Linked DNA regions of Homo sapiens: regions 1, 2 and 3 are each reported to be linked to region 4. The links are microRNA targets in miRTarBase. Many come from high-throughput screens and were not tested one by one. Region 4 holds a microRNA gene; each other region holds the end of a gene's coding sequence.
What was found. The annotated mature microRNA hsa-miR-4253 reads AGGGCAUGUCCAGGGGGU and lies in region 4 at 984-1,001, opposite strand. An mRNA with a match to its seed (bases 2 to 7 or 8) in the 3' UTR can be bound and repressed. Matches are read on the target gene's strand: a 7mer-m8 pairs with bases 2 to 8, a 7mer-A1 pairs with bases 2 to 7 and ends in A, and an 8mer does both.

Region 1 (3,333 bases), not on the chromosome of region 4:
CAAGCCCAGCGCCTTCCCCAGCAAGGCCTCGACTCATGACAGCCTGGCCCACGGGGCATCTCTGCGGGAGAAGTACCCAGGCCAGACTCAGGGCCTCGACCGCCTCCCGCACCTTCACTCCAAATCCAAGCCCTCCACCACGCCCACTTCCCGCTGTGGCTTCTGCAACCGCCCAGGCGCCACCAACACCTGCACCCAGTGTTCAAAAGTCTCATGTGACGCCTGCCTCAGCGCTTACCATTATGACCCCTGCTACAAAAAGAGTGAGCTGCACAAGTTCATGCCCAACAACCAGCTGAACTACAAGTCCACCCAGCTCTCCCATCTCGTGTACAGATAGACCGGCCTCGCCCCTTCCAGCTCCAAGGGCTACATCAACCGACCTTTCGGGTTTCACGGTGAAGAAGTACTAACGCATTGATCTCAGAGGCGGAGGCCTGCACTTGACCATGTAGGTGGCAGAGATCGTGGGCTGGCTGTGTCCACGTGGGAGTTCACTTAGCGACTCAGATATCTCAACCAATGGCTGCTTTGTTGTCTGACAAGGGAGAAGGTGGCACTTCCGTTCAGATTCATTTTGCTAATCTCTCCACTCCCTGTTCAGTTGGTTCTTTTTTTGGGGTTTTGTTTTGTTTTGTTTTGTTGTTTTGTTTTTTCCTTTAAAGAGGATTTCTGTCTCTGGGACCCTCGCTGCACCTACCCCTCCCATTGCAAAGCCAACTTGGACTGGGAAGGGCCCTTCAGGTCACCAAACATCCACCTGGAGCGGCGAGCTAGAGGCCTGTTGGCTTGTGAAATGAGCCCTCCTGCCACACGGGGCCTCTCCCAAAGGCTCATCCCTTGGCCGCCCCCTTCCTAAACACAAGGATCCCCAGCTGGACTCCCCACCCCCTGGCTTCCCCACCTCTCCAGGTGTCAAAGGTGAACCGAGTCCAGTATTAGCTGAATGTCATTTCGTACACCACAGCTCAGTCAGCCCATGGCCTTCGTGAACTTTGCTCCAACACACTGATGTGTGGGCTTCCCACAGCAGGACTGACTTCCCCCTTTCTGTTGTTTGCACATGCCCCTCTTACTGTACTGTCAATAGATATTTTTGAGATTTATTTTTAAATAAATATTCAACTTGCTGTGTGTTTCAACGTGGTTAAAAAAATGAATTATGTAGCTATTTATTAAATGCCCTGGGTTCTTTAGTCTTCCAAGGGAGGGCCTCGCGCCCATTCGTGTTGTATCCTCCACTCACTATGGCCCGAGGGGAGAGGAGAGTTTGGGGCAGGGAGGAACAGACATGAAGCCTCCTTTTCTTGAGCTGGTGGAGAGCCACTGTCTTCCCTGCAGTAACTATCTATACACCTACCTCCAGTGTGCACTTAGGGGGTGAGCGCGGGTGTCGAGGTCTGTGTGTCTGCAGACTGCTAACCTATGACAATTCAGGGACCTCACCTGTCGGACCTATAGCTTGCTGAGCAGGAACCTTGCACTTCACACTTCTTGAGTCTCGTTTCAGAAGGAAAATCATTTGGGATTCCTACTGCCCCTCCATCTCAATCCTCTTCTCTTCACCAGTTTCCAGGACTCATCTGCAACATTTGCAATCTTTTTGCACTAAAAGTGGGCAGGAGTCGGCATGTGCCCATCAGAGAGACGGCTCCTCAGATGCTCAGCTAAGCCTAAGCGCTTCCAAGCCTGAAGGCCCCTTCAGCTTCTCATGTGAATTACCAACCCCTGGATTTTCCTTGTGGGGGTACAAGAGCAGGAGTGGGGCAAGAGTTTGAAAATAAAGCCGCTTCCTTGTGAACTAACTATATTTTAGCCATAACTGTTTGTGATGTACACAATGTTAAGGGATTTATATGCAGTGGGCTTTTCTGGGAGAAAGTTATTCAGCTCTTGAGCAAGTTTAAGTCTGGCTGAATCCTGAGGCCACTGTGAATTTGCTGATGTTCTTCCAACTCAGTTGAGTGATTTTAAGGTTTTCCAAATCTTCTATGGCTCTCTTTTTAATATATATATATATATATATATATATATATATATATATATATATATATATCTATCTGGTAGATCACATGTAGATGTACAGTGTGTATATTAAGCTGAATTTCAACCAACTTTATTACTAAGACCAGCCTAGCAGGGCATTCATCTTTGATGTTCTTCCTTTTCACATTTCAGAATCGGCAATGCCTGGCCCACTCCTGAGAGCTCTAGTTTTCTAGTTTTCCATTTCCAGATTGCGCCAGCATTACAGTAACTAACTCTTTCTAACCAACCGTGATGCCACGTAACTTACCCTATGGACAAAAGCAGGAATGACTAACACATCCTAGGAGGGAAAGTCCAGTGTACCTGTCATCACGGACGCACTGTGGTCACAGACTGGAATACGAAATACTACAGCCCTGCTCCCAGGTGTGCATCTTACTGGATGAGGTTGCTGTGATTGAGATAGTTAAATACATGCTAATTTAAAAATGCAGATGTTTTACATTTGATTTCTACCAAGAGTTGAAATGTTGAGAGATGATTAAAAATAATAATAATAAAGTGTCTTCCATTGTTAAATGAAGTGTTTGGGGTTTTATGTCCCCTGGCCCTGCTTTGAAGTTTGGTTACTTGGGAGTTTATTTTTCCTTAAGCTGTATTTAGTTTTTTAATGACAAGACTTAAATTTTCTCTTCCATGAAACTGACAAATAGCATTTGAGTGCTATACTGCGAGCCTGGCACTTTTTATTTTTTTAATTTTTTGTAAAAAAAATTTTTTTTTTTTTCGAGACGGAGTCTTGCTCTGTCGCCCAGGCTGGAGCACAGTGGCGCTATGTCAGCTCACTGCAAGTTCCGCCTCTTGGGTTCACGCCATTCTCCTGCCTCAGCCTCCCAAGTAGCTGGGACTACCACACCTGGCTAATTTTTCGTTATTTTTAGTAGAGACGGGATTTCACTGTATTAGCCAGGATGGTCTCGATCTCCTGTCCTCGTGATCTGCCTGCCTCGGCCTCCCAAAGTGCTGGGATTATAGGTGTGATCCACTACGCCCGGCCATGTTTTTTTTTTTTAGTTTAAGACGGGCTCTGTTACTTCCCAGTCTGGAGTACGGTTGTGTGATCATGGCTAGCTGTAGCCTGGACCTCTTGGACTTGAGTGATCCTCCCACCTCAGCCTCCCAAGTAGCTACAGGTGGGCACCACTATGTCTGGCTAATTTTAATTTTTTGTAGAGGTGGGGTCTCACTATATTGCCCAGGCTGGTCTCAATCTCCTAGGCTCGAGTGATCCTCCCGCCAGGCATTTGTATCCTGAGACTATGTGCATGATCTTACTTACTAGCT
Region 2 (3,333 bases), not on the chromosome of region 4:
GCATTTCATTTCAAGAAGTTGATATTAAAGAAATCCTCATCATAATAATAACCCATGGAGTAATGCATGTCAACTCTGCAAAACTAGAACGTAGCCACTTTAAATATACTTAACACATGACAGCATTCTCAGTCTTGGTTTCTTCTTGCAGATGAAGTTGAAAGGAAGCTCAATCCAACTCTCAGACAAAAAGCTTTGTCAGATATGCCAAAATCCCTTTTGTGAGCCTGTGTTTGTTAGATACCCAAATGGTGGTCTTGTGCACACCCACTGTGCCGCCAGCAGACACACAAACCCCAGCTCATCCAGTCCTGGCACTCGGACTTGAAAAGCTTGGCCCAAGGGTGCGAGGGGAACTCCGAGTTCTTTCTGAGCCTGCTGGACATGAAGAGCAGATGACCACCATGCTCTGTGTCAGCCAGGACGAAGGGAGACATCTGGGTGCCAGGGAGCCTTCCGTCCATACGCAACAAGGACTCCTCGCTGCTGACCAGGCTCTATGAATGTACATGGAATGACCAGGCTCTATGAATGTACATGGAAAACCCCTAAAAATCCCCAAAACAGAAACATACAAGAGTTCACCTGTCCAGGTACATAGTAATCCAAGACAGAGGTCTACTTTGAAAAAAAAAAAAAGGGAGTCTTCCTCATGCAGTCCAGACCCAGGTGGGGGATCCCCCACCACCCCCACACTCCAACCTTTAGACTCATGTTTGCACTGGAAACGTGGCTTCACCATGGCTGGCGACAAAGTCCTCTCTTGCCTGGGTGAGTGGCGAGGGCACAGAGCCTCATGGGGGTCAGCCTTGCCCTCCTGCAGAAACACGTTCTCCATCCACGCCGCTCACTCATGGGCCCATTTCCCAGGGTTACCTCGTGGGCTCTGCCTTTGCCCTCAGAAACGGCTGACCCTGGAGAAGTACCTTTGTTCCTTCTTTCTTCCTCTCCGGCTCTCAGCTCCCAAAAGATTCTGCCTTGTGTACCCAAGCACTCACTCTTGGGTGAACTAATGCTTCTGGCTGCCTAGCAAGTGAAGATCTGTTGAGAAACTGAGAACGCTCCAAGAGAGAAGCTGCTCTCCCCTCCTTGAAGAAGCCGCGGACACGGGAAACCCACGGCGGGCAAGGGCCCAGCTGTGTGCTCCTTTCCTGTCATGGCATCTGCTGATTTGAAACTCCATGACGAACACGTTGAACTAAACATTTTTATTTAAATTTGTATCATGTTCGTAGTTGCTCTCTTGTTGAGAGAGTCATCTGTCCTGTTTGTTAGGGGTATTTTTTCTTGTTAAAATGTATCTCCTGTTGAATACTCGGGAAATTCAAAGGGAAGTGTGGTCAGCACACACTGAGCGTTCTTTTCTGGAGAGGCCGGTTTTAGCCTCGTACCTTTAGCAGGACCGACAGCGGGTGGAAGGGCCCGTGTGCTGGATGGGGGTGTCGCCTCCTGGATGGCACACCCTCCCGAGGACATCCAGACAGGCTGTGTCACCCTCCAGCACTTTATGTGCCTGCTCTGAGGTGTCCTGAACACACAGCAACGGCCTCTCCTTCATCACAGGCCGGGGATTCCTTTTGTGTTTCTGTATAACATCGATGACGAGCTGAAGCTGTTGTCACTTCACTGCCCTCTTTGGAATTTCTTCATTGTGCTGACTGATTCTATTAGGGGCTAACAATAAAGGCAGTCTACCCACTACTATCATGCTTGGGAAACAAGCGTCAGCTTGTACATATGACAAGAGAGGACCCTGAATACACCCTCTCTTCATCAGCCCAAGCCTTACTGAGGTGGGATGAAGACCTCATTCTCTGTTCTTTAAAACATGTTTCGTGAACTAATATTGGTCCATGTATTTTTTGTCCTTTTGGGACTCTAAGTGGGTCAAGAAGCAAAAACATCCATGTGTTGTTTGGGGGGAATTGGCACCATTTTTTCCTGACTATGTTTCAATTAACTAAAGAATAAATGATGAAGAAATTCTCCTTGTAGCACAACTGTATGCTGTGTAAATTGGTGTGAGCTCAAAGCCCAGTCATGTGTTTTACCTGTGGGTGACTCTGTTGTAGAATGGTCATATTACTGCATATGTTATCATGACAACTTGTGAGTTTGAGTTTATATTTCTCAAAGAACAAGTTACCCGTATATGCAACATTGCGCCATTAAAAGCTTATTTCTCTGTACACAAAATGGGTAAAATCTTGAAAAAACTTAGTAATTTCTCATTCCTAACACACAGACAGAGTCTCACTCTGTCACCCAGGCTGGAGTGCAGTGGCGCAATCTCGGCTCACTGCAACCTCCACCTCCTGGGTTCAAGCGATTCTGCTGCCTCAGCCTCCCGAGTAGCTGGGACTACAGGTGCATGCCACCACGCCCAGCTAATTTTTGTATTTTTAGTAGAGACGGGGTTTCACCATGTTGGCCAGGATGGTCTCGGTCTCCTGACCTCGTGATCTGCCTGCCTCGGCCTCCCAAAGTGCTGGGATTACAGGCGTGAGCCACTGCGCCCAGCCAACACTAGTCATTTTTATTTTTTCACTGAACATTGATCAATACTCTAAAATGTTTGTCATCCTTTAGAATAATGGGAATTAAAGTTGAGCAGTTTTCCATCTCTACCAAATCCTTCACCACAAGCAGCATTCTATTACAGTATGAAGAATTGTCTCATATGTTAAAACTGTACTTTTCTCTAACCTTTCTCTCACTCCTACAAGGCCCTTTTCTCAAATCATATTTCTGAGAGAAATGTATGGTTCTTTCTCACAGGCCTGCTGATTTGTAACTGTGCCATCGAATAGAGCAATTAGATCCATCAGACCTTTTTCCCCTCATTAGGTTCAGTGGAACCATTCTGGTTAAAACAGCATGAACTGAACTCAGTTTACATTCATATTCTATGGGCAATACCATTTGGTTTTTGGAACTGTTTATCTGCTGTTCCCTATCAAGTATTAATGTAGGGATGTCACTCAGGCTGCGTTGCACTGGGCTGAGTTCAACTGCGACGCTCTCACTGACGCGTGCTTACATGTGCTTCTCACTTCCGGAGCACAGGCAGGTGGCTGCGGGGTCCCAGCTCTGAATGGATGCCCATGATGCAACTGGGGCAGCCCTTGCTTTTTGCTTGCTCTCCCACAGAAACCTTTGTCCTTGCAACTTTATCCTTTGTCCCGATTGGGTCCCAGATACACAAAATGTACAAATGTAAACTTGCTCATTTTATTAAAATTCTTTTAGTTCTTTGTTCTTTCTGTAATTTTTTAAAATAAAAATTGCCTTGATGGAGTGATGGTTTTCACTCGCACCATACCTAGTCTAAAT
Region 3 (3,333 bases), not on the chromosome of region 4:
ACATCGCCTCACTTGGCTTCCCTGCCTGGAAAAGTCTGAAGATGGGCACTACAAGAGAGGCCGCAGGTGATGCTGGGGACATAAATCCTCCCTGGCCCAAATAGGGACCAACTCAAACTACTCCATTGGAGCATCTGGCTTAGGACCCAGGGAGAGTGTCCTGGAACGGCTTGCCTTTGTCAGCTCTCCAGCCACGGGCAGCATTTGGTCAGCTCTGCCCTTTCTAGTGTTGGGAGGAGGTCAAGGCCCACCCTGGGCCTCTCAGCTCACTCGTGACTCAGCCCAGCGAGGCCAGCAGGGCAGGGGTGAATCTGCCCGCTTCTCAGGTGAGGAGGCTGAGGATGCCCAGGGCTGCTGTGACCAGGACTAGGACTGGAAACTTGAAGGTTTTCTGATCCCAAGTGGAAATAGGAAGCTGGGGATGTCCCATGTCCACATCACAATGGCTGCCCCATCCCCTGCTTCCGAGTCAGCTGATTGGAAACCACTAGGGGGCAGAATCTTCTCCTTCCCTGATGCCCGGGTGTTTGTGGAGCCGGCGGTCTGCAATGGGTCAGCCTAACTGCTGATATGGTATTAATATTTCTTTCTTGTTTTACAGCCAAGAAAGGGAAGGGAAAGGACTAGACGCCAAGCCTGGATGCCAAGGAGCCCCTGGTGTCACATGGGGCCTGGCCCACGCCCTCCCTCTCCCAGGCCCGAGATGTGACCCACCAGTGCCTTCTGTCTGCTCGTTAGCTTTAATCAATCATGCCCTGCCTTGTCCCTCTCACTCCCCAGCCCCACCCCTAAGTGCCCAAAGTGGGGAGGGACAAGGGATTCTGGGAAGCTTGAGCCTCCCCCAAAGCAATGTGAGTCCCAGAGCCCGCTTTTGTTCTTCCCCACAATTCCATTACTAAGAAACACATCAAATAAACTGACTTTTTCCCCCCAATAAAAGCTCTTCTTTTTTAATATATAAAAGCCCCTTCCCAAGGAGTTTGCTGTGGAAATGTGTTTGGGAGTGGGAAGGTGGGGAGAAAGACCAGGCTGTAGGGACTGGTGGGTTTCAGGGGGCTTGGTGGTGGGTGCTCTCCAGAGCTCATGGAAAAAGCAGAACAATTACAAACATTTCTTCCAGGGCCCCTGAAAGGGTGCTCCCCATCAAGTCACCTAAGCCTTTCGGTCCTCATCTCCCTCAGGGACCAGGGCTGGGGAAGGGAACCTGGCTGACTCACTGGAACCACCACACCCATCTCAGCCTCACCCAGTCAAAGGTCTTTTGATACAACCCACAGCCAATCAGGAAGGTTCTACCCATGGGGGAGAGCAGATGCGAGGGCTGCGTGCCTACCTCACTGCCCACCTCCCCCCTTCCCACTGTCATGGAAACCCGAGTGAGCCACCAGGTTGACCCCTTTCCTCTTGCCTGTGTGACCCAGGCCTCCACCCTGCAGAAGCCAGGGGGTGAGAGGTTTGAAGAGGGCAGATGGGAATGCCATCCACCACAGCCTCACCCTGACTCGATGTGTGACCTGGGACAGCCTTCTAAGGCCGGGGCTGCAGGGGGCTGTCTTCTGAATACGTGGACCACTCACGGCTCAGCCTGGGATCGCAGAAGGCCAGACCTCAGTTCCTGAGACAGAACCTCTGACCTCCCAGCTGCCCCATCTTAATGTGACAAGGGCAGTGCTGCTGGGGCGGGGGGGACCTGGCCTCCATCATACCCACCCAGAACCTGGCTAAGTAGCTGCAGCCAGAGGAGATTTCTGCCCCTGGAGTGGGATTTGGGGAGAGGGGGCTGAGCCTACATGCGGGGTGCAAGGGGGCAGAAAGCACCGATTACAGCAGAATGGGGGACCCCACCCTTCTACTCCCTTCCCAAGCCTCCTTTTCCAAGCACTGGCCCCTTTGTTCTTCCTGAGGGGGCCCTGGGCTTCGGCCCCCATCCAGATGTCCATTCTTCCAGCACTGCTGATGGTTGGTCACAGTGGGGCAGGTGCCCACCCAGGCCAGTGCCCCGCAGCTCGCTGAAGCAGGGCCACAGAGGTGGGCCAGGCAGCCCCAGTTCAGACACTCCCTGGGGTGAGCCTCCTCAGCCTGAGCAGAGATCTGGTCTCTGAATGCAGCCACAGAGCCTCTTCTGAACTTCCTCCTCAGCAAACGTGAACGCAGAATGGTGCCTGCAACTCTTCCCCACAGCAAGTGAGCCGTGTGGTCCCCCCAGCACACGCACGCAACACCAGCACCTCCTAGGGCACTCCTGCCTGCCTACCTGGCAGTGCCGATGTTCCGATACTGGCACAGCAGCAGGTGCCGGAAGGTCTTTTTAAAGGTGGCGTTGCACAGAGCATAGCAGGCAGGGTTGATGGTGCTGTTGACGTAGCAGAGCCAGTAGCCAATGGACCACACCGTGTCAGGGATGCAGCTCTGGCAGAAGGTGTTCACCAGGACCATGACGTTGTAGGGCGTCCAGGTGAGGATGAAGGCTAGCAGAATGGCAAAGATCGTTCGTGTCACTTTGCGCTCCCGGGCCGCCATCTGCCGCTTCTTGCGCACCTGGTTGCGAGCGATGCTGGCGAACTTGCGGGCCACGTTGGCCGCAGGGCGCATGCCAGCCGGCGTGGCAGGCACAATCTCAATGGCTGTCACACACTCATTGCCTGTCTGCTTCGTCACAATCTGGATCTTGGACCATCTGGAGGCTGGGTTGAGGGCCCGCGGCTGCAGGGGAGGGGCGGGCATGGCGGGCGTGGTGGCCTCTGTGGTGGACAGCTCTGTGGCTGGGCGTTCCTTGGTGTTCTGGGTGGCACTGCCTGAGCTGGACTCATTGGAAGTGTCCTTATCAGCCACGGGGCGCGGTGGCGGTGGCAGCGCTGGCGGGGGGGCCTCCTCCAGCTTGCCATTGCGCAGCTCCTCCCGGGCGGCCTCCCCGGGCGGGGGCTTCTTGACGCTCTGCTTCATTAGTGGGCTCTTGAGGAAGGCCAGCGTCTTGGCTTTCTTCTCCTTCGGGCCCTCGGGCCGGTGCTTGTGGACTCGGCTGCGACTGGCCAGGGAGATGTGGATGTACAGCACCGTCATGATGACCACAGGCAGGTAGAAGGCAGCAATGGCTGTGCCAAAGGTCACTGCTGGGTTGGACAGGAACTGGATGAAGCACTGGTTGTCGGGCACCGTCCGCTTACCCACCACAAACTGCCAGAACAAGATGGCAGGCGCCCAGAGCACGAAGGACAGTACCCAGGCAGCAGCAATCATGAGGCCTGCCATCTTGGTGGTGCGCCGGGCAGGGTAGGTGAGAGGCTTGGTGACGCAGAAGTAGCGGTCAAAGCTGATGATGAGAAGGTTCATGAC
Region 4 (3,000 bases):
ATACTCAGAGCTACAGTGGGGGTGGACTCCATATCAGGGATGATGGCCACAGCCCATGGGAGAAGCCAAATGAGGGCCGAGTGCAAGCAGTGCCCTCCTTAGGCTGGCCCTGGTACTGCAGGCCCGCCTTTTATTAATATTTTAATAAATTGATCACATATTCATTGGGCACCTATACTGTGCAAGGCCTTGTGCCATGGGCCTTACGCTTAAGCAGAATACTCACAATGACCCTGCAGAGATGGGCCTTAGAATCCTAATTTTACAAATAAGAAAACTGAGTCTGAGTAGTTAAGCAGCTTGTCTGGGGCTGCACAGCTAGTAAAAGGCCTAGCCAGTACTCAAAGCCAGGTCGGTCTTATTCCAAAAGTAGTGTCCTCCTCTATTCTACCACATCACCTCTCTACACTGCCCTAGGACTTTTCTTCTGCCGTATAATCATCTTAATTGTCTGTAACCCAAGGATCTAGTTCTAAGAATCAGGGCCCAGCCAGACATTATTAAGCAAGACCAGGACCCATGCACACTGCCCCAGACATCTTCAGATGTGCCTCCTAACTAGGTCAGGATTGATTCTAGAGACCATGACACAGCCAAGCTGGGATAGGTGAGGGAAGATTGCTGGGAGCCCTAGACAGCTCACGGACAAGAAACTAGGGAGCCCTGACAGAATTAGAACTCCCACGTTGGGGCCTGGAGACTTCAAACCCTTCAAGAGATGAGATTTTCCAGCAGTGGTGCTGCATGGCCCCTCCGCGAGGCTGTGTGGCCCCTCCGTGAGGCTGCGTGGCTCGTGACCTCTCTGAGTCTTCATCCAGTTTCCTGGTGACTCTCCTTGTCTTCTCTCTCAGGTTGTCCATCTGGGACTTTCAAGGCCAACCAAGGGGATGAGGCCTGTACCCACTGTCCCATCAACAGCCGGACCACTTCTGAAGGGGCCACCAACTGTGTCTGCCGCAATGGCTACTACAGAGCAGACCTGGACCCCCTGGACATGCCCTGCACAAGTAAGTCCTAGGGCCCCTCAAGGGCGATGGCTGGCCGAGTCCCAGGTCTACCTGCAGAAAAGCTCAGAGTGAGGATTGGGTGCCGTCCGGTTACAGCCAGTCTTTCCCTGGTGGGAAGAGAAATGGAAAAGTGCTCAAGAAAGGGGCATCCTGGGGTGGCCATGCTCCCACCTTGCAGACACCACAGTGCTGGCATCTGGCTCCTTACCCCCTTCTGCTGAGTCACATGGAAGATAAAGTCAAGGTCTGGATTCACAAAGGGACAGGGGATGGGAGGCTTGGCAGGAGATGAAGCAACACAGGTAGTATATGTGGCAGAAAAGGCTGCCCAGTGTTCTAACCTGGCAGCAGCTGCCTGAATCACAGCCCAAGGTCCTCTAGGAAGGCACTGCCTGAGAACGCAGCGTCACAACCCCTGTATCTGTCAGGGATGGCATTCAGCTGTAAGTAACAGAGCTGAGCCCTATGGCTGAAACTGTACGGATTTATTCTCTCACCCAAAAGGAGCCCAAGGTAGACAGTCCTGGGACAGTATGGGCAATCCACGATGGCCTTTGGGGCCTGGCTCTTTCTGCCATTCAGAATGGCATAATCCTAGCTCACTGCAGCCTCAACCTCCTGGGCTCAGGTGCCCTCAGCCTTCTGCCCTCAGCCTCCTGAATACCTGGGATTACAGGCGTGCACCACCACACCCAGCTAATTTTTCTAATTTTTTGTAGAGACAGGGTCTCGCTATGTTGCCAAGGCTAGATTTGAACTCCCGGGCTCAAGGAATCTTCCCGCATCCTCCCAAAGTGCTGGATTACAGGCATGAGCCACCACGCCCAACCTAGTTTCTGTTCTTTTTTTTTTTTTTTTTTTTTTTTGAGATGGAGTTTCACTCTGTCGCCCAGGCTCTGGAATGCAATGGCATCATGATCTCAGCTCATGGCAACTTCCACCTCCCGGGTTCAAGTGGTTCTCCCACCTCAGCCTCCCGAGTAACTGGGATTACAGGCATCCGCCATCATGCCCGGCTAATTTTTTGTATTTTTAGTAGAGACGGGGTTTCCTATGTTGGCCAGGCTGGTCTTGAACTCCTGACCTCAGGTGATCCGCCTGCCTCGGCCTCCCAAAGTGCTGGGATTACAGGTGTTAGCCACTGTTGTTTCTGTTCTTAACGTCACTTCATAGTCCAGCATAGCTGCTGAAGTCCCAGCCATCACCCACATTTTAGGCAGCAGAAGCAGGGAAAGGACAAAGGGACACGCCATAGCTGTCTGTCTCTTTTTAAAGAAACAGCCCTAGTCAACAACTTCTGCTCTATATCAGTGGCAAGCACTTAAACACAGGAGGCTGGGAAATGCCATCTTTTAGCTGGACATATTGCCACCATGAATAAAGCTGGGCTGTTCTAAGGAAGAAGGAGAAAATAGATACTGGGCAGGTATAATTCCAAACGCAAAAATACTATCCTCAGTAACAAACACTGAGCAGTTTGTAAGCTGGGAGGAGAGAAAGGTTTGGGCAGATGTACAGCAGGCTAACTTGTATTCTAGAAACATTTCTCTGGTGGGGAGACAGGACAAAGAATTTAAGGAAGTCCTTTCAGAGGGGCTGAGCCAGAGCAGCGGGCACAGAGTGGTCACATGGGGAATAGTACCCCCTGAGCCCCCCACTGACCAACACCTCTCCCCCGCCCCAGCCATCCCCTCCGCGCCCCAGGCTGTGATTTCCAGTGTCAATGAGACCTCCCTCATGCTGGAGTGGACCCCTCCCCGCGACTCCGGAGGCCGAGAGGACCTCGTCTACAACATCATCTGCAAGAGCTGTGGCTCGGGCCGGGGTGCCTGCACCCGCTGCGGGGACAATGTACAGTACGCACCACGCCAGCTAGGCCTGACCGAGCCACGCATTTACATCAGTGACCTGCTGGCCCACACCCAGTACACCTTCGAGATCCAGGCTGTGAACGGCGTTACTGACCAGAGCCCCTTCTCGCCTCAGTTCGCCT

Region 1: the mRNA of SPATA2 is a reported target of hsa-miR-4253. Seed matches in the 3' UTR shown: 7mer-m8 at 1,063-1,069.
Region 2: miRTarBase lists TGFBRAP1 as a target of hsa-miR-4253. Seed matches in the 3' UTR shown: 7mer-A1 at 3,099-3,105.
Region 3: miRTarBase lists MDK as a target of hsa-miR-4253. Seed matches in the 3' UTR shown: 7mer-m8 at 750-756.

The regions. Positions count from the first base shown.
Region 1 is chr20:49,902,626-49,905,958 of GRCh38, reverse strand. It overlaps SPATA2 (spermatogenesis associated 2), which reads left to right. Exons shown (of 3, transcript NM_006038.4): 3 at 1-2,568. The coding sequence ends at 340. Among named protein-coding and RNA genes, the nearest start is that of SPATA2, 11 kb to the left of the region's middle.
Region 2 is chr2:105,264,378-105,267,710 of GRCh38, reverse strand. It overlaps TGFBRAP1 (transforming growth factor beta receptor associated protein 1), which reads left to right. Exons shown (of 12, transcript NM_004257.6): 12 at 152-3,297. The coding sequence ends at 328. Among named protein-coding and RNA genes, the nearest start is that of GPR45, 24 kb to the right of the region's middle.
Region 3 is chr11:46,382,868-46,386,200 of GRCh38, forward strand. It overlaps MDK (midkine), which reads left to right. Exons shown (of 5, transcript NM_002391.6): 5 at 602-934. The coding sequence ends at 627. CHRM4 (cholinergic receptor muscarinic 4) reads right to left here. Exons shown (of 2, transcript NM_000741.5): 2 at 922-3,333. The coding sequence ends at 2,251. Among named protein-coding and RNA genes, the nearest start is that of MDK, 2.9 kb to the left of the region's middle.
Region 4 is chr1:22,862,186-22,865,185 of GRCh38, forward strand. It overlaps MIR4253 (microRNA 4253), which reads right to left and starts at 1,041; the gene lies at 974-1,041. It overlaps EPHB2 (EPH receptor B2), which reads left to right. Exons shown (of 16, transcript NM_017449.5): 4 at 852-1,007; 5 at 2,692-3,000. RefSeq lists a silencer at 2,840-3,000.